Regions from separate parts of the Homo sapiens genome. Here region 2 is reported to be linked to region 1. Evidence: microRNA targets listed by miRTarBase, many of them from high-throughput screens and not tested one by one. Region 1 holds a microRNA gene; the other region holds the end of a gene's coding sequence.

Evidence for each region. The annotated mature microRNA hsa-miR-378a-3p reads ACUGGACUUGGAGUCAGAAGGC and lies in region 1 at 2,443-2,464, shown strand. An mRNA with a match to its seed (bases 2 to 7 or 8) in the 3' UTR can be bound and repressed. Matches are read on the target gene's strand: a 7mer-m8 pairs with bases 2 to 8, a 7mer-A1 pairs with bases 2 to 7 and ends in A, and an 8mer does both.
Region 2: the mRNA of CAB39 is a reported target of hsa-miR-378a-3p. Seed matches in the 3' UTR shown: 7mer-m8 at 3,308-3,314.

Annotation. Positions count from the first base shown.
Region 1 is chr5:149,730,425-149,741,030 of GRCh38, forward strand. It overlaps MIR378A (microRNA 378a), which reads left to right and starts at 2,401; the gene lies at 2,401-2,466. The region is part of intron 1 of PPARGC1B (PPARG coactivator 1 beta); the gene reads left to right. RefSeq lists enhancers at 1-135, 374-493, 504-553 and silencers at 1-223, 1,024-1,123, 1,134-1,183, 1,204-1,293, 1,324-1,553.
Region 2 is chr2:230,815,541-230,826,719 of GRCh38, forward strand. CAB39 (calcium binding protein 39) reads left to right here. Exons shown (of 9, transcript NM_016289.4): 8 at 2,214-2,357; 9 at 2,976-5,535. The coding sequence ends at 3,164. Among named protein-coding and RNA genes, the nearest start is that of ITM2C, 44 kb to the right of the region's middle. RefSeq lists an enhancer at 8,859-9,028.

The DNA.
Region 1 (10,606 bases):
GGCCGGCTGGGGCTGCGGGCCCGGGGCCAGGGGTGCTGAGCTGCGGGGGCCGCAGCTGCAGCCGCGGAGGCCGGGAGGCAGCGGTGGGAGCCCTGGGGTAACTGGGGGTTCCAGGCTGCAGAGCCCCCCTTCCAGGCGCCCTGCGATGCGCTCCGTTACCGGGGCAGGGAGCCGGAGGTCTCCCGGCGCGTGCCGGAGCGCTGGGGGCGCTACGGCCGCTGGGGAGGGTCTAGCCTTGGCCGCTTGGAGTCTGCCACCCCGCGGGCAAAACTGGGGGGTACCGCGCTTCCTTTGGGAGGTGGAGGCGCGCCACGGTGTGGGGTACCCTCAGGCTGGCGCTGGGTGCTGGAGGCGCGCCGTCAGCGCCCGGCACTTGCTGCCGTACTTTCACGTGGACTTGTGGCCCCGGCACGGGTGCATGCCCGGGTCTCCGGAGTCCCCTAGTCCTCCAGGCTGTAGTCCCCAGAGTGCTGTTGCTGGCCCCCCGCGGCTTTCTACCCGCGCCCGCAGCGCGGAGTTTCCTGCCAGTTGCCGGCTAAAGGCATAAGGGTCTGCGGGGCACGTGGACATGCGGGCGGAGACAGCGTCTTCCTGGTTTCGCTATCGGGCGGAGCCCCCTGGGGGGAAAAGCCAGGCTGGATGGGGGCGGAAGGACTGTCTGGGGGCGCCTGGGTCCCCCTGCGGTGCGCGGCCCCGGTGCGCGCTCCACGATGCAGGGGGAAGGGAAGGCGAGGCGGAGTCCCAGGCACTGGCTGAGCCCGGGAGCCCCACTGGCGACACGCGCGTGACAGGAGAGGGTGCTCTGGTGTGCCGGGGCGCGGGGGAGCGAGGAAGCTGGTGGCTTGGAGACTGGGAGAGGGGTGCTGCTGGGACAAGCAGCCACCAAAAATGTCAGCACGAGGCGTGCGCGGCCCCCACCCCTTCCCCCATTTTCCCCACCCAATGCCTGTTGCAAGCATAAAGTTTGGCTCCAGAGTTAGGGCTTTTTCTCTGGGCGCCCGGCTGCGGGTCATTGGGAAGCTGAGGATGCGGCGGAACCTCGGAGGAGCCCCGGGTGCTGGCACACGCCTGGGCACGGAGAGGGGCGGCCGGGCGGAACCGGGCGCGGCTCGCGGGGGCTGGTTTGGTACCTGGAGTGGGAGCGCCGGTGCCGGCCCGTTTTGCATAACAGTGGAAGGGAGGGGGAAGGCGGAGATTGGGGGAGGGAGGTGGGAGGAGAGAGAGGGAAACTTTGCTTCTTGTTATAATCTGCCTGTCTTTGGGCGGCAGCAGCTGTCATGGGACCGGGTGGGCGGGGAGAGGCTTGCAAGCTGACTCCTTGCGGTGAAACGCGACTTGGAAGGGACGCCGCAGCCGAGACGTTCAGCTCCGGGCAGCGACTTCGGGCTGGCGGCTGGGACGGCGTGGCGTGGCAGGGTGTCGCCGAGAGGAAGCCCGCCACGCGGGAGGCAGGCCGCCCCTGGCCCGCTGCAGACGCCGCTGCGTAGGGGAGCCGCGGGGCCGCGTGGTCGGTGGCGGGCGCGCTCGGGTGGGTTCGCGGCAGAGGCCGGAGGGGCTAGTGGCGTGTGATTGCGCTTCTCGAGATCGAGGGGAATGTGTGATGAGCGGGTTGCGCGCGCGGGTGTGTGTGTGTGTGTGTGTGTGTGTGTGTGTGCACACGCCGCGCGCGCCGGGCGCGTACCTTTACCTCTGACGAAACTGCGGTGGAGCTCCCGCCGTCGTCGCCGGGCTCCGTCACACGCCCCGCGCCGGTGTCTGCGCCGAAGGCAGGTCCCAGCCTCAGTACCCCCAGAGCCGACAGCTTGGGGCTAGCGGGCACTGAGTGCGGGAGGAGGGGCAGAGTCACTCCTGGGAAGATTCTGTCCCCAGATCTCGAAATTGCCCTGGGGCGTCTCCGAATCTCTTGGCTGAAAAGCGGATGAGAGAGGCCTGAAATAGCCGGAGACTCGTTCAGGGACCCATGTCAAGAACTGTCCGCTTTGGACTGTACCCCGGATTTTAACTCGATCTTCAGTGTTTGGCTCAGCAATAATTAATTATTTTGCCCTTTAGCCGCCCAGCGAGCCTAGCTAGCAGAAATATTTCAACTAAGGAAACTAGAAAATTGAATACTCAGGTGTTTGCAGGAGCAGTGCAGTGAAAGTTAATCTGGGACATTTGCTTTTTTTATTTAACCACATGACAGGCCGAGGATCTTCTGGTGATCTTTGCCGGCCCAACTTGGGAAATGTAATTGATAGGATGAGCTTTGAGCCGCCCCTAGAAGGCTCGGAGAGCCCAGCCGGAAGAGGACCTGGGCGGGCCCAGTGTGCTCCTCCTTATTTTACAGCTGGAGAAAGAGGCTGCGAGGAGTGAGCGGCTTGTATGGGACCATGCAGCCAGAGGGTGACAGAGCCACCCAGGGCTCCTGACTCCAGGTCCTGTGTGTTACCTAGAAATAGCACTGGACTTGGAGTCAGAAGGCCTGAGTGGAGTCACCTTCCCCACTCTCTGGCTGGGTGACCCCGGAGCAAGCCATTTGAACTCTCCGAGCCTCATTTCCTCCATCTGTCAAATGGGGCTGGTGGTGCCGCAAGAGAATCCAATGGCCTGGTGGTGGGGGTGAGCAGTGTTTGCATGTGAGATGTTCTGGTTGTTCCTGCAACCCCCTCTCCTCCCCCAAACTTTCCCTGACCCTCCCCTCCTTCATCTCCCTTTGGGAGCTTTGGGGAAAGTGGATTAAATGGTAATTCATTGTCTTTGTCCCAAAAGATTGTTGTTGTCTTTGGTGGCTAATCCAGGGTTAGATTAGAGGGAGGACTTCTGTTTAGGAGACTTAACTTTTACCCATTGGGGCCAAAGTACGGAAATTTAGCAGAACAAGGATTGCGAAAGTTTCTTGGAAAGCTTTGAGGCATGGATCCCAAAGGACTGTGGGTGGCTTCACCTTTGTTCAGGCTATGCCCCTGGCCCAGAGTACCCTCACTCACCCGTCCTGCATGGCCTTCTCCTCTACTAGGCTCTCCCAGCCCAGCTTGCCCTGCTTTCTCTCCTTTGGTTTTCTGCATCTGTGTGATACAACCAAGCACTTTGTGTGAGTCTGGTGTCCAGTAAGATTCTAGCACTAGGGTTGTACCTTTTATCATTGTGCCTGCAAGGCACCTGTCAGTATGCTGAGCTGTGTTCCTTTGCTTAGCTCTTGGCTAGGCACATGGATTACAGACAGGGGTGCAGCTGGGTCCTGCCAAGCAGAAGCTCCCAGGCTAGCAGGGGAGACAGCTGGGCAGCGAGTGTGGGAGAGAGGAATGCAGAGGGCTGCAGCTGTGGGCAAAATTTTAGACCCCAAAGGCCACACAGCAAGTCCACACTAAATATGGGCTATTTGAAGTTGCTTAGGGCATCAGTCATAGATGCACAAAATGTCAGAGTTGGCAGCGGGAATGTTAGAAATCATCAGTTCTAACAACTTATTTAAAAATATTTAATTATAGAATTGTTAGAAAATACTGCCAAGCATAAAGAAAAAAATGAGAAATATGTAACATGACCCAAAGATAACCACTTAATTGTCATGTATATTCCAGACTGTTTATTTCCTGTTCATATAGATCACATCTTATTTTTAAAAAATGGAGTCGCCGGGCACGGTGGCTCACCCCTGTAATCCTAGCACTTTGGGAGGCCGAGGCGGGTGAATCACCTGAGGTCAGGAGTTCCGGACCAGCCTGGCCAACATGGTGAAATCCTGTCTCTACTAAAAATACAAAAATTAGCTGGGCGTGGTGACACACACCTGTAATCCCAGCTACTTGGGAGGCTGAGGCAGGAGAATCGCTTGAACCCGGGAGGCGGAGGTTGCAGTGAGCCGAGATCGCGCCACTTCACTCTAGCCTGGACAAAAGAGCGAAACTCATTCTCAAAAAAAAAAAAAAAAAAAAAAAAGGAGTTATCCTGAATATACTGATTTGTAACTTGGAATTGCACTGTTCTGTAACTTGTTTTTTTTTTTCCTCTTCCAAACAATATGCTGTGAACATCTTTCCACATCAGTAAATATTCTACTTAGTATCTTAATGATTATATAATGTTTTGTTGAAGATTGAACCGAGATGTATTTAATTAATCCTTTATCGTTACTCATTTACGTTGTTTAATTTTTTTATTTTGCTATTGTAAGCAATGCTAAAACGAATATCTTTTTATGTATGTCTTTGTTTCTTCCTTTAAGTTCCTAGAAGTGAAATTACTCCATCAAACTCATTCCTGGATTCTCTTCTAGAAAGATTGTACTTATTTGTGCACTGGCATGGTCTGGGAACACCTGGTTTCCTATACCCAGATAACTGTTGATATTTTCATTGTTTTTCATTTTTACCAGTCTGTTCGTCAATAAATTCTGTTACCCTTATTGTTTTAATGTGCATTTATTTGATTACTTGTGATGCTAAACTTCTTCCCCATATGATCATGGGTGACTTGTGGTTCTGTGTTTCTGAACTTGGCCCATTTTGCAATTGGTATCTTGTCTCCTCGTTGTTCTAAAGCTGGGACTGAGCACCCAGAAGGGCCCCCTGCCACATGGAGAACTGGGAAAATGGCTCCACACACCCCTTGAAGCCAGGGCCAACTTCTTTTTCAAATCAGTTTGTAGATTTGGACAAATGTATAGTGTGTGGGAGAAGATTGAAGCATAGCCTTCACTGGGTGCATTTGCCCATTCTTTATCTGTGTGAGACTTAGGGAGAGTAACTTCTTCACCTGAGCCAGAAGGGGTCATGTTCACCAGAGACCTGGGCTCCACTTTCATTGGGATTCCCTGGCTGGTGCTAATGATCAGGATGCCTGTGAAACCCAGGAAGGGCAATGGCCCAGCAGCTGTGCCCCACGGGCTCATATTTCCTCTTTACCTTAGGGCCCTCCTCTTAGCAGCTCGTGCAGGCCAGGCAGAAGTTCCACTATGCCACGTGAGTCACCCTCTTCCTTCTTCCTCTGGAATAATAGAAGAAAGACTGGCTCGAGTGAGAAGCAGTCTTGCAAAGGGGGCTCAGGCTTGGAAATGCCTAACAAGAATATTGCAGTGTTGATCCTTGCCTTCTCCTTCATCGTCATCATCAGTGACGTTTACTGAGTATCCCCTATACCCCATGCAGTTTTCTGAGCCTTCTGTTTGCACTACTACATTTCATTCTCATAGATATTGTGCAAAATGTAGGTGCTGTTGCACAGCTGTACAGATCTTACAGTTTCAGAGAACTCACTGACTTGTGGAAGACTAATTACCTTTGAGTAAGTAGAAGAGCCAGCATTAGTGGGCAGTGTTCCCAGACTATTTGACTCTAAGCTCCTTGAAGACAGGGGCTACTCTCAGTTTTTGTTCATCAGTGTTTTTCTAGCACCTTGAGCAAATGAAGGCACATAGATTGTATAGAGAGAATGCAGAGGCCGGGTGCGGCGGCTCACGCCTGTAATACCAGCACTTTGGGAGGCCAAGGCGGGCAGATCACGAGGCCAGGAGTTCGAGATCAGCCTGACCAACGTGGTGAAACCCCGTCTCTACTAAAAATACAAAAATTAGCCGGGCGTGGTGGTGTGTGCCTGTAATCCCAGCTACTCAGGAGGCTGAGGCCAGAGAATTGCTTGAACCCGGAGAATTGCTTGAACCCAGGAGGCGGAGGTTGCAGTGAGCTGAGATTGCACCACTGCACTCCAGCCTAGGCAACAGAGTGAGACTCCATCTCCAAAAAAACAAAAAAGAAAGAATGCAGAACAAGTCCCTCTGCTTCTCTACGCCTGTTTTTCAATCCTTGAAATGGGGATAATAGGCCCTCTCGATTGGGAGTGAAATAATACAGTATATCTAAAATGAGCATTAACCTGCTACTCATGAAAGTTGGAATAATTCTCTCTTTGAAGCACTTTAGAAGGACAGGATTAAGTATGGAGCTAATTTTCATGCATGCAATCTTTTTTTTTTTTTGCGTAAAAAAGAGAAGCATAATTCTTATTAGAGAGTGAAGGGTACCCAAATAAAGTCATTTGGAAGAAAATGATCAGGGTCAGTTTCTATCTGTCCTCCTACAAGGTAGTCGGAGTGCCTCATATCCATCCCATTGACACTCAGCTGATGCAGAATCGATTGGATTGATCTTTCTGTTCTTCTCCCCTTCTGATCTAGGTTTTTGTCTGTTTGTAACTAGATTCCTGCAGTTACTACCAAAGAGATCTTTGCTGCACCCGACTTTGTCTTCTTCCATTTGCCCTTAGCCCAGATGGCAGATCAGTCCTCTTAGAGTGCATATCTGACATCACTCTCTTGCTCACACATCTCCCATGGCTCCTCAGTACATTTTTTTTTCTTTTAAGACTTTATTTTTTTAGAACAATTTCAGGTTCACAGCAAAATTGAAAGGAAGGTACAGAGATTTGCCATATACCCTTGCCCCCAACATGCATAGCCTCCCCCATTATTAATATTCCCCACCAGAGTTGTAGATTTGTTATAATTGATGAACCTACATTGACACATCATTGCCACCCCAGAGTCTGTAGTTTACATTAGGGTTCACTCCGTGGGTTTGGACAAATCTGTAATGACAGGTATCTACCATGGTAACATCACACAGAATAGTCTCACTGCCCTGGAAATCTGCTCTACCTTTTCATTTCTTCTGTCCCCCAACTCCTGACAACCACTGATCTTTTTACCGTTTGTACAGTTTTGCCTTTTCCAGAATGTCATATAGTTGGAATCACGCAGTATGTAGTGTTTTCAGATTGGCTTTTTTTTCACTTGCTGATAGGAATTTAAGGTTCCTCCATGACTTTCATGGCTTGATAGCTTAGCTCTCCGGTATTTTAAAATTAAAGCCTAAACTTAAACCTGATTTCCGAAGGCCTTCGGGTACTTTTAAGTTGGAGAGTTAGGCCCTTGACTTTGTCTTGAGCTGTCTGCTTTTACTTTGGGATCCTGTACCTCCCCAGGAAAACCCTGAATTTTCCTCCTGGAGGCTTAGACTCAGGCTGCCCTTTTCTGTGTCTTCCTTCTCCATTTCCATGATTCATCCTGCGAGCCCCTGCTCACCAGCCACTGTTTTGGCGATGCCCTCTCCCTCACCTCCAAGCCAGCTGTTCCATCTTCTGTGTGGCAGTACGCAGGGCCAGCAGAGCACTGACCTTGGAATCCCCTTACTGGGTTTGAGTCTTGGTTCTGCGATTTGCCAGCTTCGAGGCCTTTGGCGGGTCACATAACCTTTCTGAGCTTCTGTTTCCTGAAGTGAGAAGATATGATGATTAAGATTGTTGTGAAGAGGCCGGGCACAGTGGCTTACGCCTGTAATCCCAGCGCTTTGGGAGGCTGAGGTGGGTGGATCACCTGAGGTCAGGAGTTCGAGACCAGCCTGGCCAACATGATGAAACCGCGTCTCTACTAAAAATACAAAAATTAGCCGGGCATGGTGGCGCATGCCTGTATTCCCAGCTACTTGGGAGGCTGAGGCAGGAGAATCACTTGAACTGGGGAGGTGAAGGTTGCAGTGAGCCAGGATCACACTACTACACTCCAGCTTGGGTGACAGAGTGAGACTCTGTCTCAAAAAAAAGATTGTTGTGAAGAGTCAGTGAAAATCGAATGACAACATGGATTTAAAGCATGTAACACATGCCTGGCACAGAATAAGCACCAAATAATAGATATATCTCTTCATCTATAGATCATATTAAGTGTTAGGACATCACTCCTGGACGTTAAGCTCCACAAAGGCAAGAATTTTCGTTTATTTCATCCACCTTGTTTTTCACCATAATGAATAGATCAGTGCCTGGAATATAACAGACATTTAATCAGTCCTCATTGAATGATTAGGAAATCACTCCTGGACGTTAAGCTCCACAAAGGCAAGGATTTTCGTTCATTTCACCCACCTTTTGTTTTCACCACAGTGAATAGATCCGTGCCTGGAACATAACAGACATTTAATCAATCCTCATTGAGTGAATGAATATGCTAGACTATGAGCCTCTTCAGGGCAGACACTGCTTCTTGTTTTATATCTTCAGTCTGAGTGTTCCTGAGAAGGGATGGAATACAAGTCTGGTGGAATGAACTGGAATGTCCTCTCCCCGCCACCATCCCTGCCATTTTAATGTATTCATAGCCTACCTGAACTTTAAGCCCCCTCTTGAAAGCCTGCCCTCTCTGGAAAGCATTTTTTTTTTTTTGAGATGGCGTCTCACTCTGTCGCCCAGGTTGGAGTGCAGTGGTGCAATCTCGGCTCACTGCAACCTCCCGGGTTCAAGCGATTCTTCTGCCTCAGCCTCCCAAGTAGCTGAGACTACAGGCATGTGCTACCACACCTGGCTAATTTTTATATTTTTAGTAGAGATGGGGTTTCACCATATTGGCCAGGCTGGTCTTGAACTCCTGACCTCGTGATCCGCTCGCCTCGGCCTCCCAAAATGCTGGGATTGCAGGCATGAACCACCGCGTCCAGCCTCTAGAAAGCCTTTGAAGCTAACTTCTTCTGCTTCCACCACCCACGTGGCTTGTGCCACTTACTATCCCATGGTATCTGAGTGTGCTTTTATTCCTACAACTGGATTGAAAGCTCTGGGAGGACAAGAAATTATTTTTATCCTGGACTAGCAGTGTGGTTGCCTAGAAGAGCGTTTTATAGGTTTCAATGTCAGGTTCTCTGAAAGAACTTTGTATTTTAAACATTTGACTATGGAAAATGTCAACTCATACAGAAGTAGACAGTAGAGAGAACAGTATGGTGAATCCCCATCCCTCCATCACCCAGCGTCCACTGTTAAAGACTTGCAGTCACTCTTATTCCATCTCCATGTACAAGACGTCATTTCATCTGTGACTATTTCGTTGTGTATCTGTGAAGAGACTTCTGAGTGCTATTGCATGGATTTCTCCCAATAACTGTGAGACTGGCTTTCCCCATTTTGTAGGTGATGAAACTGAGGTGCAGGGAGGTTAGGTCAGTTGCTCAGGGTCTTGAAGCTAGTGAGCGGCTTACCTGGGATTTGAACCTTGACTGTGAGCAGCTCCCTCTCCTTCCAGGCTTGGGGCAGGGGGCCCTTGGAGATACAGGTACACCTTGCCATTTCCAGAAGAGAGGAAGCTGAGGTCCAGCTGCTTGGCTGGAGGAAGCCCAGGCCCCTGACTCCCTGGCAAGTTCATTTCCAGTGTCAGGTCTTGCGAGGTGCGGTGGGCCTTAGCTCTTGGGGAGGGCCAGGGTGGGTAGTCCTCTGAGAGACACCATTGCCCTGAGTGGCTGGGCTTTGGATGGCCGTGGGACCCTGGGGCAAGGTCTACCACCACCCCTGGACAGACTGCATTTTCTTCCTACTCTTGTCATTCCTAAATCCCAAAGGTCCTCCTTGCAGCTGACCACGAGTTCTCTCATGAGATGCTCAGGACTACCCAGTGAGGGAGAGGGAGCCAAGGGGTCAGCAGCTGGGTTCACAGAGCTCAGAGAGGAGGGGCCTGGCCTGAGGTCACCCAGCTGGCCTGGGCACAGGGTTGACAGGCTCTTGGTGGCATCTGGACCCTTGGGCTCCCACCCTGCTCTTTCCTCAGGATAGAGACCGAATTGCTACCCAGATCTGGAGTAGGAGACCAGAGACGAGACCTGAGAGACTTTCACAAATGGTGGGATAAAGCCATTGATTAACTGTCCCCAAAGGCCTGTGATGACTGTTTGGTGTTTTAGGTAAGAAAACAAACATTTGCCCTAATTGTTTGCTTCAGTGACTGAGAGGGCTGTGAATTCTAGGATGGGGTTCTGCTTGGGCAAAGCCCTGGGAGCTTGGCAGAGAATTTCTTTTGGCCTTCTTTTTCTATCTAGGAAATGGGGACGATAGTAGCATATGCTTTGAAGGCTTTTAGTGAAGAATAGTTGAGGCAATGTCTGTAAAGTGTTCAGAAATGCTCAATGAGTAGTAACCCTTGTTATTATGAAAAGGGGACACATGTAATGCAGACCCTGCCATTTGTCTTCCCTCTGAGCTCCAGGTCCTTGATCTAGTCGAGGCCCTGAGGTTCTTCTTGCAGAGTGTTTTTTCCTCTCTACTTGTGGGGCAGGTGACGAGGGATCCCATCCAGCCTTAGCAAGTGTTGCAATACTGACTTAGGAAACCACTTCTAGTGAGATGCCACTTGAAGAGAGAAGAAATACCCAATAGTGGTTAAGAGCTCTAGGCTTTGGAGTTTTAACTGCCTATGGTTTAAATCAGTGCTCTACCACTTACTAGCTATGTGACCTTGAGCAAGTATCTTAACTTCTCTGACCTCAGTTTCTTCATATATTATCCCCCAAATTGGGGATAATAATAGTATGCTCTTTGTAGGATAACTTAAGATAGCTGCAGATAATTAAGGCTTGCAGCTTCACCTGACATATAGTAAGCGCTCAATAAATGGTGGTCACTAGGATGATGACAACGACAATGATGTAAAAATATAAAACACACAAATGTCAATTTGAGCTTTCTGGGAGTTGGGAGTGCCTTAGAGACGATCTTGCTTAATGCCCTTACCTTGAAGGAAGGAAACAGACTAGAAACAGATCAGAGGATGCCTTCAGGTCACTCAGCAGAGGCAAGACAGGGCCCTCGG
Region 2 (11,179 bases), not on the chromosome of region 1:
ACAGGATAGCCTAGGTTAGTAGCTTCTAGGGCCATTGTGGGAGGAAGCTGGGGCCGGGGGTGCAGGGTGGAGGTTATTGGCAAATCCATAAACTTTGACCAAATGTTGGATTCTTGGGCTGTTTGGATAAGGAGAAAGGCCTTCAAGACCCTTCTGCCATTCAGAATTACCAACATGAAAAGAAAGGCTGAGACCACCATTTCCAAGCCCTTAGGAATGGATATAAAGCAAGTTGCTGGCTCCTGCAGTTTATGTTAGCGGTGGGCCTGTGAGTGCCCCATGAACACATGGAGCGGCTTCAGCACCAGCCGTACTTTAAAGATGGATTTTAATTTGTACTCTCTTTTTCGTAGCCACATTGGCATTTATTTATTCCCATATTTATGTCGCCAGCAAATTTATATTCCCTATGCAAGACTCCCAAGTTTTTTAGTAAAGTATTACATGTTTGGGCTGAGTATGGTGGCTCACGCCTGTAATCCCAGCACTTTGGGAGGCCAAGGTGGGTGGATGGATGGAGGTCAGGAGTTCAAGACCAGCCTGGCCAACATGGTGAAACCCTGTCTCTAGCCCCAAAAATTAATTAGCCAGGTGTGGTGGCACAAGCCTGTAGTCCCAGCTACTTGGGAGGCTGAGGCATGAGAATCACTTGAGCTCGGGAGGTGGAGGTTGCAGTGAGCCAAGATTGTGCCACTGCACTCCAGCCTTTGTGACAGAGTGAGACTATCTCAAAAAATAAAAAAAGAATTACATATTTGAAGTCATCTTCCTTCAGATTTTCTTTGGTTTCTGTGATAGAAAAAGAACACGAAAGCTATAAATCACATAATACTAACTTTTCAGTCTTTGTAAGATACTGGTTGCTTCTCACCGTAAGAATAGATTTTGTGATTCACATTGATATGAAGCCTACTCCTTTCAGTTTTTCCTATGAGTTCCTTATAAAGCCTAAGTAAAATAGATTTGTTTTCTTGTACATCAGCTCATTTTTTATTTAATATGATGACAAGTTACTTATCCAGAGATCAGTTACCTGGAAACTTCAAGTATCTAGAACATAGCCAGAAACCCAGAAAGGAAGCAACAAAAGCAATTAAAGCAAAGCCACAGAGCCGCTATTTGCGCCTTTTCTTCCCTTAGCCCTCACTCACTCACATCTCTGCAGATACAGGCCTGATACGTGCTTTGCACACTGATGCTCGTTTCTCACTGCACTCTCCTGAGAGAGAGGCACTGTTCCATTATACAGATGATGGAACCGAGACACAGAGGAGTTCAGTAACGTGCTCAAGATTACAGAGCTCACAAGAAGTAGGGAGCCAGGATTGGAACCCAGGCAGGCTGGCACCAGGGACCAAGCTCTCCACAGCTCTGCCACCGCCCACAAGGACCGCAGCTTGGCACCTGCCCCACTGCCGGCTCTGCACACTCAGCCTTGGCCAGGTTGTTGGCATGTTGACAACCTGAAGAAGTGACTGCTGGTTTTAGGAAAGAGTAAGCCGTGACAGTTTAAAAGTTATGAGTTTATATGATATAACCAACTCTCCAGAAATTAGTAAACCCTTGAAGTAAACAGATGTTTTTTTAGCATTAATTGGTATAATTAGTGATGGTGAGGGGTCAGTAAGAAAACACTGGATTATCTTCAGGAGACCTAAGAAGGAGCAGAAAAATACTCACTTGTGTAAACCTTTCTGAATTAGCTGTGATAAAACGATAACTGTGGCATGTGCAGGGTACACAAATGGAAAACTTTGGACACAAAACCCTTTATCTTGGAAAGTCCCGCTAAATAAAATTTAAAAATAGTTGTTTTAAATTAAGCTAAGGTTTGTGGTTAGTTAACAGGAATAATCAATAACTTTTGACCATTTTCTTGAATAGTTTCTTTTTAGTGAGCTAACACAAATGCACGCTTAAAGGGGAGGCTTTGAGAGTCTCCCACTGGGGCCAAGGGGGCATCTTGAACATCCTCTGCAGAGAGAAGCGTCAGGCCTCCCGTAGACTTCATCTCTCAGGGAAAGGGAGGAAGGCATTCAGGTGGCAGAGAGAAGGCCCTTCGTAGCTTTTAGGTTGTAATTCAGTTCAGTTCTTCGGTCTTTTGAGTGCCTACTAATACTCTATACTTGATGATTATAAAATAAATTGTTTTTTTAAACTTTGATTTTTCTTTAAGTTTTAATAACAAGGTAATTGTTTAAATGTCTTCTCAGCTTCTCGGTGAACTACTACTAGATAGACACAACTTCACAATTATGACAAAATACATCAGTAAACCTGAGAACCTCAAATTAATGATGAACCTGCTGCGAGACAAAAGTCGCAACATCCAGTTTGAGGCCTTTCACGTTTTTAAGGTAGAGTACTAGAAGCATCAGTGATACTGTCCACTGGAATTGTTCGTCGTCTTTCATTCGCAAATAACGGAAATTATTAGCCTCACTCTGGTAATCCAGGTGACTTAATTAAATTCAGTCACTTTTCATATTTGTGTGCTATGACTTTTAAACAGAAAGGTAGACCTGGAAACGGGTTACTGTTTGGATCTGGGAACGAGAAGGTTTGTTCATAGAAGAGTGTCATTTATCTTTGGCCTAGAAGATTAGTAACTGCAAAACAAAAGCATTTCTTAATGCTTTCTGTGGAGGTTTCATTCTTAAAATCCCATCTGACCTCTTGTGCTGAGAAATAATTTCTGCCCATTTTATTCTAAAATCAAAGTCTGTATTTAATACTAAACACTGTGTTGCAGGGCTGGCAGAATGAGTTTATCAGTCGTATTTGTGTTAAAACATGTAATTATTATTTTTTTTTCCAAATTGTAAAATAACGCCTTCTAAAGCAAAACCTAATGACCCTGACTTCAGCGCCATCCCAGGAGAGCACAGCTCTGCTTTTCTGCACTGTGGCCGCAGCTCAGGTGTGGCTGCGTTTTGTCCTTTCTCTGTGCCTCATGTGCGTTTCTCTCCACGCAGGTGTTTGTAGCCAATCCTAACAAGACGCAGCCCATCCTAGACATCCTCCTCAAGAACCAGGCCAAACTCATAGAGTTCCTCAGCAAGTTTCAGAACGACAGGACGGAGGATGAGCAGTTTAACGACGAGAAGACCTATTTAGTTAAACAGATCAGGGATTTGAAGAGACCAGCTCAGCAAGAAGCTTAATCTCCAATAAACATCTATGTTAAATCCAAATTCAGCATTTGCTGTTAGCTATTCAGCATCAGGCACTCTTATTGATTCATGAGGAACATTACTGCTAATCTGCTGTTAAGTGAACGGTTTTTCATTTTACCCTTTTGTTTTTCAGTCCAGGTTGGAGATCGTAGCTGCTGCTGCTTGCACACTAGGGCACATGTGGGCTTTCTCTTGATCTTTGTGTCATTTCAGAATTCAAAGACTGTGCTACGGGAGTTCTGAACATGGCTGGGTTCATGAAGGCAAATGTATGGATGAGAGTGTGGTTTAGGAAAGAGGGCACTGATATCAGATTAGACCTATGTGTTTGCACCCATCTTTGTTGGCGATCTGAGTGCAGTGTGGCAAGTGCACACCTGGCATCCCTGCGTCAGATCGCGCACCTTCAGGTCGCGCACCTTCGCTGAAGGAAGATGACGCAGAGCTTTATCTGAAATCAGAGGGGAGCTATCCAAAATGGGAGTTTGGGGGCAGCTAAAGTTGACATGCGAATAAATTGATACTGAAACTTAGCAACTTCTTAAAAGTGTAAAGAAGCCTCATAAGATCATAAGGAAAATGTATATATGCTTTTCACAGCTTTCTAGAATTTTTTGACATTTGATTTTCTTGAGACTTGTAAACCTGGATATGTTGAAGGGTATTTGTTAATTTTACTTTTCAAAGATACTTTAAAACAGTAGAGCTAGCAATGACACCTTGCATTTCATTTCAACACTGCTTCAAGGTTTCTTTTGTATATAATTCTTAGAATGCTCATTTCTTTTAAATGGTTTAATTTGTACAGCAGAGGAATGTTATTGTAGTAGTATGTAACTATTACCTAATACTGAGTTTTTGCAAAAAACAATGAATGCTCATATGTAATTGAAATACTTCAGATCACATGAAAATGCTGATTTAACATTTAAGTATCACAGCATTAAAAGAAAAAGAAAGTAAACCAGTCCTTTGTATTCAGTTACCTAATGGGGTGCCATCAATAAGCTGCGATACAGCCCTGGAGCTCAGTCAGCCACACCTTCCTGCATCCTATTGGCCTTATTCATTTTAAATGAGTTAATGAATCTGCCAGATCTGTGAATGATAGAGATTATGCTAAATTAATGCTGATTCTTTGTGTGTGTGGGAAATCTCTGTAGAGCACCTTTTCTTTCTTAGACTAAGTAACCCAGTACAATAGTTGTGAACTGAATAATTAAAACTTTGGCTTCTCTTAGGAAAAGACGACTTCCTAGTCATAGGTGTCCTATGGGGAAATTTATTTTTTTTAATGTCCTGTTCCTTAATGCTGCAAATTATCAGTATTTATAAAGTAACTGATTTTGCACCACTTTTTTGTTACTGTGACCACGGCAGAACAATGTCTTCTAGACTATATCTATGTAAAGTTATTAGAATGGTATCTGTTCATTTTAGTGATATGAAGATCACAACTAACAACTGACAAATCAGAGTTTGCCAGTTCAAATTCAGCATGGCTGCAGCTGATTAAGAAATTGATATGATTATTCTTTGCTAGCCTCTCTTACTAATGGAATTATATACTGGCCAGTAAAATGGGCCTCCCAATTGCTGTTTCAGCAGGTTTTAAACCTTCAGGAACACCAGTTAGGAAAATAGCTCCAGAAAATATAGATATATTTTATTTTTATTAAAATGGCAGTCTACATCATAATTGGCATTTCTCAAGACTGTCTTTACCAGAATCTGTGTGAAATAAGGCAATCTAGTCTCCTTGAAAAAAAAATCTCTTGGATGTTTAGGAAGGAAGACTTGGCCGTGATGTGGTGTCCTGGCTTTGTGGTGTAGTGCTGTGTGTATGGAGTTAGTGTAAAAACATGGATTACACCAAGTGGAAGAAACGTCTTCTTGCCAAGCTCATTCTTAGAACTTACACATCTAGAACAGCTTCCACTTTGGCAGTGAGGTCGTAGCCTTTTAGGTGGAAGAAGTGAGGGTGCAGCGTGTCAGACACAACATTCATGTTACTCTTACATTGGAATCTGAAGGTAGTTCAGACTTCGTGGGTTTTGTTTTTAAGCAAAACAATGTGAAAACATTTAAGTTTGAAATGTTGCATTTGAAGTTATGATCATTTAATATATTCATATTACCAAGACTATTATACTGGAAGTGGTTTTTGTGTTATAAAGGTTTAATTTTACATAAGGCAGTTACTTAATGTGATTTTTAACCCTTAAAAAAGTGGAGATGTATACATTTGTTAACAATGCCATGAAAGCATTTTCTTTCTCCTAAGGAAAAGTGAATTTCTTATCAGAATATCTGGCTGGCCCTGTAATTTAAATTAAAATAAAATTTTGGAGAAACAGCATTGTCTGTCTTTATGATGTGTTATAGACAGTTGCATTTGTGTTACTGTGAACAGCTTCATCAGGAGACACACAAGCCCGAATTTTATCACCAACTGAAAGTGGAGGGACAGTTAACACCCATTCCTGTCTGCCTTTTTCCCTGTTCAGGGGCTTCACTTCCCCCCCACCGCCCCCGTGCTCATGTTTTCCTTACCCTTCCTGAGTAAAATCACACCTTTTAATGGTACCATTTCTTAGACCCTAACGTTTGAGGAGTAGATCCTCTCTTGCGCTGTTAGCAACACCGCGAGGCTAAACTAGAACACTCGGCCCGGAGTATTCACAGGTTACTGATGTGAAATGATCATGAAGGCGAGGGGACCGTGGAAGCAGGCACAAGAACTCTGGCACCGTAAAGAATGTCCCTCGTCTGCCTTCCAGGGTGCCTCGTAATCCTTAGTTCACAGCCCTGCCCTCGACTTTAACCCCTGTCAGTAAATGAAATCTTATTCTCTGGAGTGAAGGCAAGGGACATGCTCTTGCCAAAAACACTTCATCCGAATAACAATGTCCTATTTGTTATTTCTGTCAAGTAGTTCAGTCTACTTGTACGTTGTAGTTCCCCAAAGGTGACAAGGGCCCATTAAGTCATAACTTGTGACTTGGCCACTTATAAGGATCACCAGGCTGAGGACTGGATTCACGCTTCAGCTCAAATTCCACTTCCTACCACAATCCCCCATCAAATGCCCTCCTCCCCTTGCCAAAGAAGCTCCAGAACGTTGCACTTCAGGCAGCTCAGGAGTAGTGCAGTTCTCACCCAGCCTTCCTAGTTAGGCTCCAACAAGGTCCTGATCGGGAAGTGCTCTGAGGCTGCAGTCAGTGCCCAATACCTTGTTCATGCTGGAGGTTAGAGCCACTCACGGTCATGAGAAAGCCCACCTGCCAACGTGCCAAAGTTGTCCTTTAGGGGAAGAGCGGGCAGCCCAGCACACACCGCCCTTCAGGTACTCCCGGATGTGTCAGGAATCTTCTCCCTGGCCATGGCTGTGTCCTCACTGACCATCTGGTTTCCAGAAGACATGAAGGACAGGGTAAGATTCTCCCCAGTCAGCAATCTCAGTACTGCAGAAAGACCCACTGGAGCTTTTCTCTACGAATACCATCCGCTTTCACCCGTTGACAGTCTGCTTGCGGTCAACCAGCACACCTCCGCCACCGAGCACTTTAGACCCAAGAAGTGCCTAATAAGGATCTTAAGCTTTCGAACCTCCAGGAATCCTGCCACCAGCATTCACGCTGACTGAAGAGGATGGTGGTGGTTGCACAAGGCTGTGTCACTGCACAGCTATATGAGGCCTTCATGTTGTGTGTGCCCTTACAGTGTCCTCTAAAACCTTGCTCATGTCTGAGAACTGGCAGCCAAGTGTCCGTCCCCACTGTGGCTGGAAGGTGGGGTAGGTTCCACCTGAGGGCACGTCCGCCGGGAGCTAAATCTCCAAGGACCGTGACCCCCTGGTTTCTTTTCTTTTTTTATTTTTTTATTTTTTTTTTTTGAGACGGAATCTTGCTCTGTCGCCCAGGCTGGAGTGCAGTGGCGCGATCTCGGCTCACTGCAAGCTCCACCTCGGGTTCACACCATTCTCCTACCTCAGCCCCCTGAGTAGCTGGGACTACAGGTGCCTGCTAATTTTTTGTATTTTTTAATAGAGACAGGGTTTCACCGTGTTAGCCAGGCTGGTCTCGATCTCCTGACCTCGTGATCTGCCCGCCTCGGCCTCCCAAAGTGCTGGGATTACAGGCATGAGCCACCACCCCCAGCCAGACCCCCTGGTTTCTATGCAGAAGATTTCATCCTTTGCAATTTGTTAAATTTTTATTATTTTTTCTAGGTAGCACTTCAGTAGTAAGACAGACCCCAGAGATTTCTGGAAAAGAGTGACATTTTTTCAACATTCTGCACAAGATTGACAGGTTTTACAGATGAGCTTTAGCTCACAAGAGCCCCTTTCCCTTGGTAATAATTTATTATCACCTAAATATTGGTGTTCCGTGGAAACAGCATGGTCTAGCACTAAGTTTTGGTAGCTGAGTCTTGTTTCCTTGAGATGCAACTGGCGTGCAAAGGCAGGAAGAGCCGCAGGCCAGCTGGGGAGGCTTCTGCCCAGAGGAAGTTTCCAGGCAAGACTGCACCCCTGATGGCTCCCTCTTTCTTCCCCGTGAACTGCAGCATGAAGACCTCAAGACCCCTCTAGCCCAAACCAATCCCAGGGAGCAAATACCCCTCCCCAGAAACACTGCTCACACACATTCATGGGGACCTTTGCATATATCCCATCATCTTAAAGTCCTCACCTGTGTGGAGAAAAAGGAGGTGAGGGTCCCTCTGCACCAAGTCCCCTCCTAACCCAAGGGGCACCTTTTCACGCTTAGCTGAATCTCTGTGTGGTCCTGGGCTCTCCCTAAGCCATTGAGGACCTGCTGGTTTCTGGGAACTCACTTCTTTGAAGATCCGGGGCGTGAGGTAGGGTTGGGTGCCAACCTGTGTCATCCAAACACATTAAGAGGGCCCTGTCAGTGCCCCACATCGTCCTTGACACCCGCTTCTGCTTATTGTGAATACCTGTGACTCTGCCTCGGCACTCTCCTCTGGCCCCAAATGCAGGAATGACTGTCCCCAGAAGCAGCCCTCAGCTGCCAGTGTCCTTGGCCCTCAGCTGGGACAGCTGCACTCCTGCCTTCCAGAGCCCGCAGCAGGGCTGAGCTCCGATGCCCACTGCATTAACCAGCTTGCTAGGAACCTTTTGTCAGATTATTTCCATCCCCGGCTCACAACCCATTCTGTAGTATCTCCTGGGATCAAGTCCCAAATAAATAACCAACACTGGAACCCTTATCTGAGGGTGTGCTTCTGGGGTAACCCAAACTAAGACATGCTCATTTTGTTTCTTCTAACTCACAGCCATGCCCGTGATCAGCCAGATGAGAGGGCTCTCTCCTGAAAGAGGAGGCCAGTGAGACAGCAAACAGGGCTGCCTGCCCTTCTGGAAGCATCCTTCCTGTCTCTTTTGCCTCAATATTTAAGAGAGGCTGGCCCCCGAGTATGCATCAAAGCCTGACACCAGGTAGGGAGAAGCCCAGCTCAGCAGAGCCGCTCTTGGCCACAGCTCCTACTGCCTAAAGAAGCTGTTCTGAGACCCCCGACACAGGCTTGCTGTCCCCCAGTCAGCCAGTGCCCCCTGACTCTTATCCTTTCAAAAGCAGCTGGATAGGACACACTATCTGCTCCCAAATAGTTCTTCATGGTCATCAAACATGCTAGCAAAACTGGAAAACCCCAGATTTTCTCATGTTCTGCCCCCTTTAAAAAAAAAGACTTGAAAGGTATAGTCTAGCCCAACAAAATGATTGCACAATTGGGAATTGGAGCCAGAATTTTAGGAAACGTCCAGGTTGAGAAAAGAATTTGGATGGGGACAGTGGAGAGAGGGCTAGGGTCTATGTGGAGGCAGAGCCCGCCCAATGGTGCTAAGGCAGCTCAAAGACGCCTGAAGGGGCCTCTCTGCCTTGCGGGGTCCCCATGAGCTTTCCCTGCAGTCAACTTGCTTTCATTTTTTAAAAATGTCCACTGGGTGGCAGTAGAGCTCCTTGTTTTCAGCAGGCTCTGAGCTGGAGGGAATGGAGCGTTCTAGGGCAAATCTGGGCAACAACAGAGAACCTGGGATGTCGTGGACCCAAATGCCCTGAGCGTCCTGGACGCCTTTTTGAGCAAAAAGGCAGGGACAGTCTAAGGGGGTTATGAAAAGAATGACAGAGGCCGGGCGCGGTGGTTCAAGCCTGTAATCCCAGCACTTTGGGAGGGAGAGGCGGGCGTATCACCTGAGGTCGGGAGTTCAAGACCAGCCTGACCAACATGGAGAAACCCTGTCTCTACTAAAAATACAAAAAATTAGCCGGGCGTGGTGGCGCAAGCCTGTAATCCCAGCTACTCAGGATGCTGAGGCAAGAGAAACGCTTGAACCCAGGAGGCGGAGGTTGTGGTGAGCCAAGATGGTGCCATTGCACTCCAGCCTGGGTAACAAGAGCAAAACTCCATCTCAAAAAAAAAAAAAAAGAAAAGAAAAGAGTGACAGAGGGCGGGACAGATGCACGAGAGTAACATGTGAAAGGTAGAGTTTAGGTGGTAGGTATATGGTTGTCTTGGTTGCTAAGAAACTATTTTTTGGAAGAGTTCTAGATTTACAGAAAACGTTGCAAAGATGACACAGAGAGATCCCATATACTCTGCACCCCATCTTCCCTGTTATTAACATCTCACATCACTGTGTTATATTTGTTAAAATTAAGGAACCAATATGGATACACTATTATTAGGTAAAGTCCATACTTTGTTCTGAGTTCCTTGTTTTCCATGATGTCTCTTTCCTGTTCCCAGATCCCATCCAGGATCCTATGTTCTATTTAGTTGAGAGTTTCTCAGACTTTGGTTTTTGCTGACAGTTTCAAAAAGTACTCATCAGGTATTTGTGGAATCTCCCTCGACTGGGATTTGTCTGCCTTTTTTCTCATGATTAGGATGAGATTATGGGGTTTGGGAGGAAGACCATACAGATTAAGTGCTTTTTTTTCTTTTTCTTTCTTTTTTTTTCTTTTTTTCTTTTTTTTTTTTTTTTTTTTGAGATGGGGCCTCACTCTGTCACCCAAGCTGGAATGCAGTGGTGCGATCTCAGCTCACTGCGACCTCCACCTCCCAGGCTCAAGCAATCCTCCCACCTCAGCCTCTCGAGTAGCTAGGACCACAGACATGTGCCACCACGCCAGACTGATTTGTACTTTTGGTAGAGACAGGGTTTCGCCATGTTGCCCAGACTGGTCTCAAACTCCTGAGCTCAAGCAATCCACCCGCCTCGGTTTCCCAAAGTGCTGTACAGGCGTGAGCCACCACGCCCAGCCTAAAGTGCTGTTTTCATCACGTCATATCAAGGGTACACACTATGGACATGACTGCTCCCTGTTGATGTTGACCTTGATTGCCCGGCTGAGGTTGTGTTTGTCAGGTTTCTCCACAATTGCTTTTTATTTTCCCTCTTTCAGTTCTGTACTCTGAGGAAGTCACTATAAGCAGCCCACACCTACCAAGTAGGGAGTTATGCTCCACCTTCCTGAGAATGGAGTATCTACATACATTATTTACCATTTTTCTGCATGAATATTTGTCTCTTTTCCATTACGTTTTTTTTTTCCTGTAAAATTCTTTCAATTTTCTGTATGCTTGAAATATTTCATAATGAAAAGGAGGGAAAAAAATGGCTGGGGTGGGGACGATGATATACATCCTGCACATGCTACCAAGTACAAGGGCACGGGGGTTTCAGGGGCGTCTGGGGATGCAGCAACACATGCAGCACCTTCTCCAGAATTCACTTTCCCACTGTCATGGTTTGGCTGCGTCCTTACCCAAATCTCATCTTGAATTGTAGCTTCCATAATTCCCACATGTTGTGGGAGGGACCTTGTGTGAGGTAACTGAATCATGGGGGTGGGTCTTTCCCATGCTGTTCTCACGAGATCTGATGGTTTTATAAAGGGGAGTTCCCCTACACAAGTTCTCTCTCGTCTGCCGCCATGTAAGACGTGCCTTTTGCCTTTTGCCATGATTGTCAG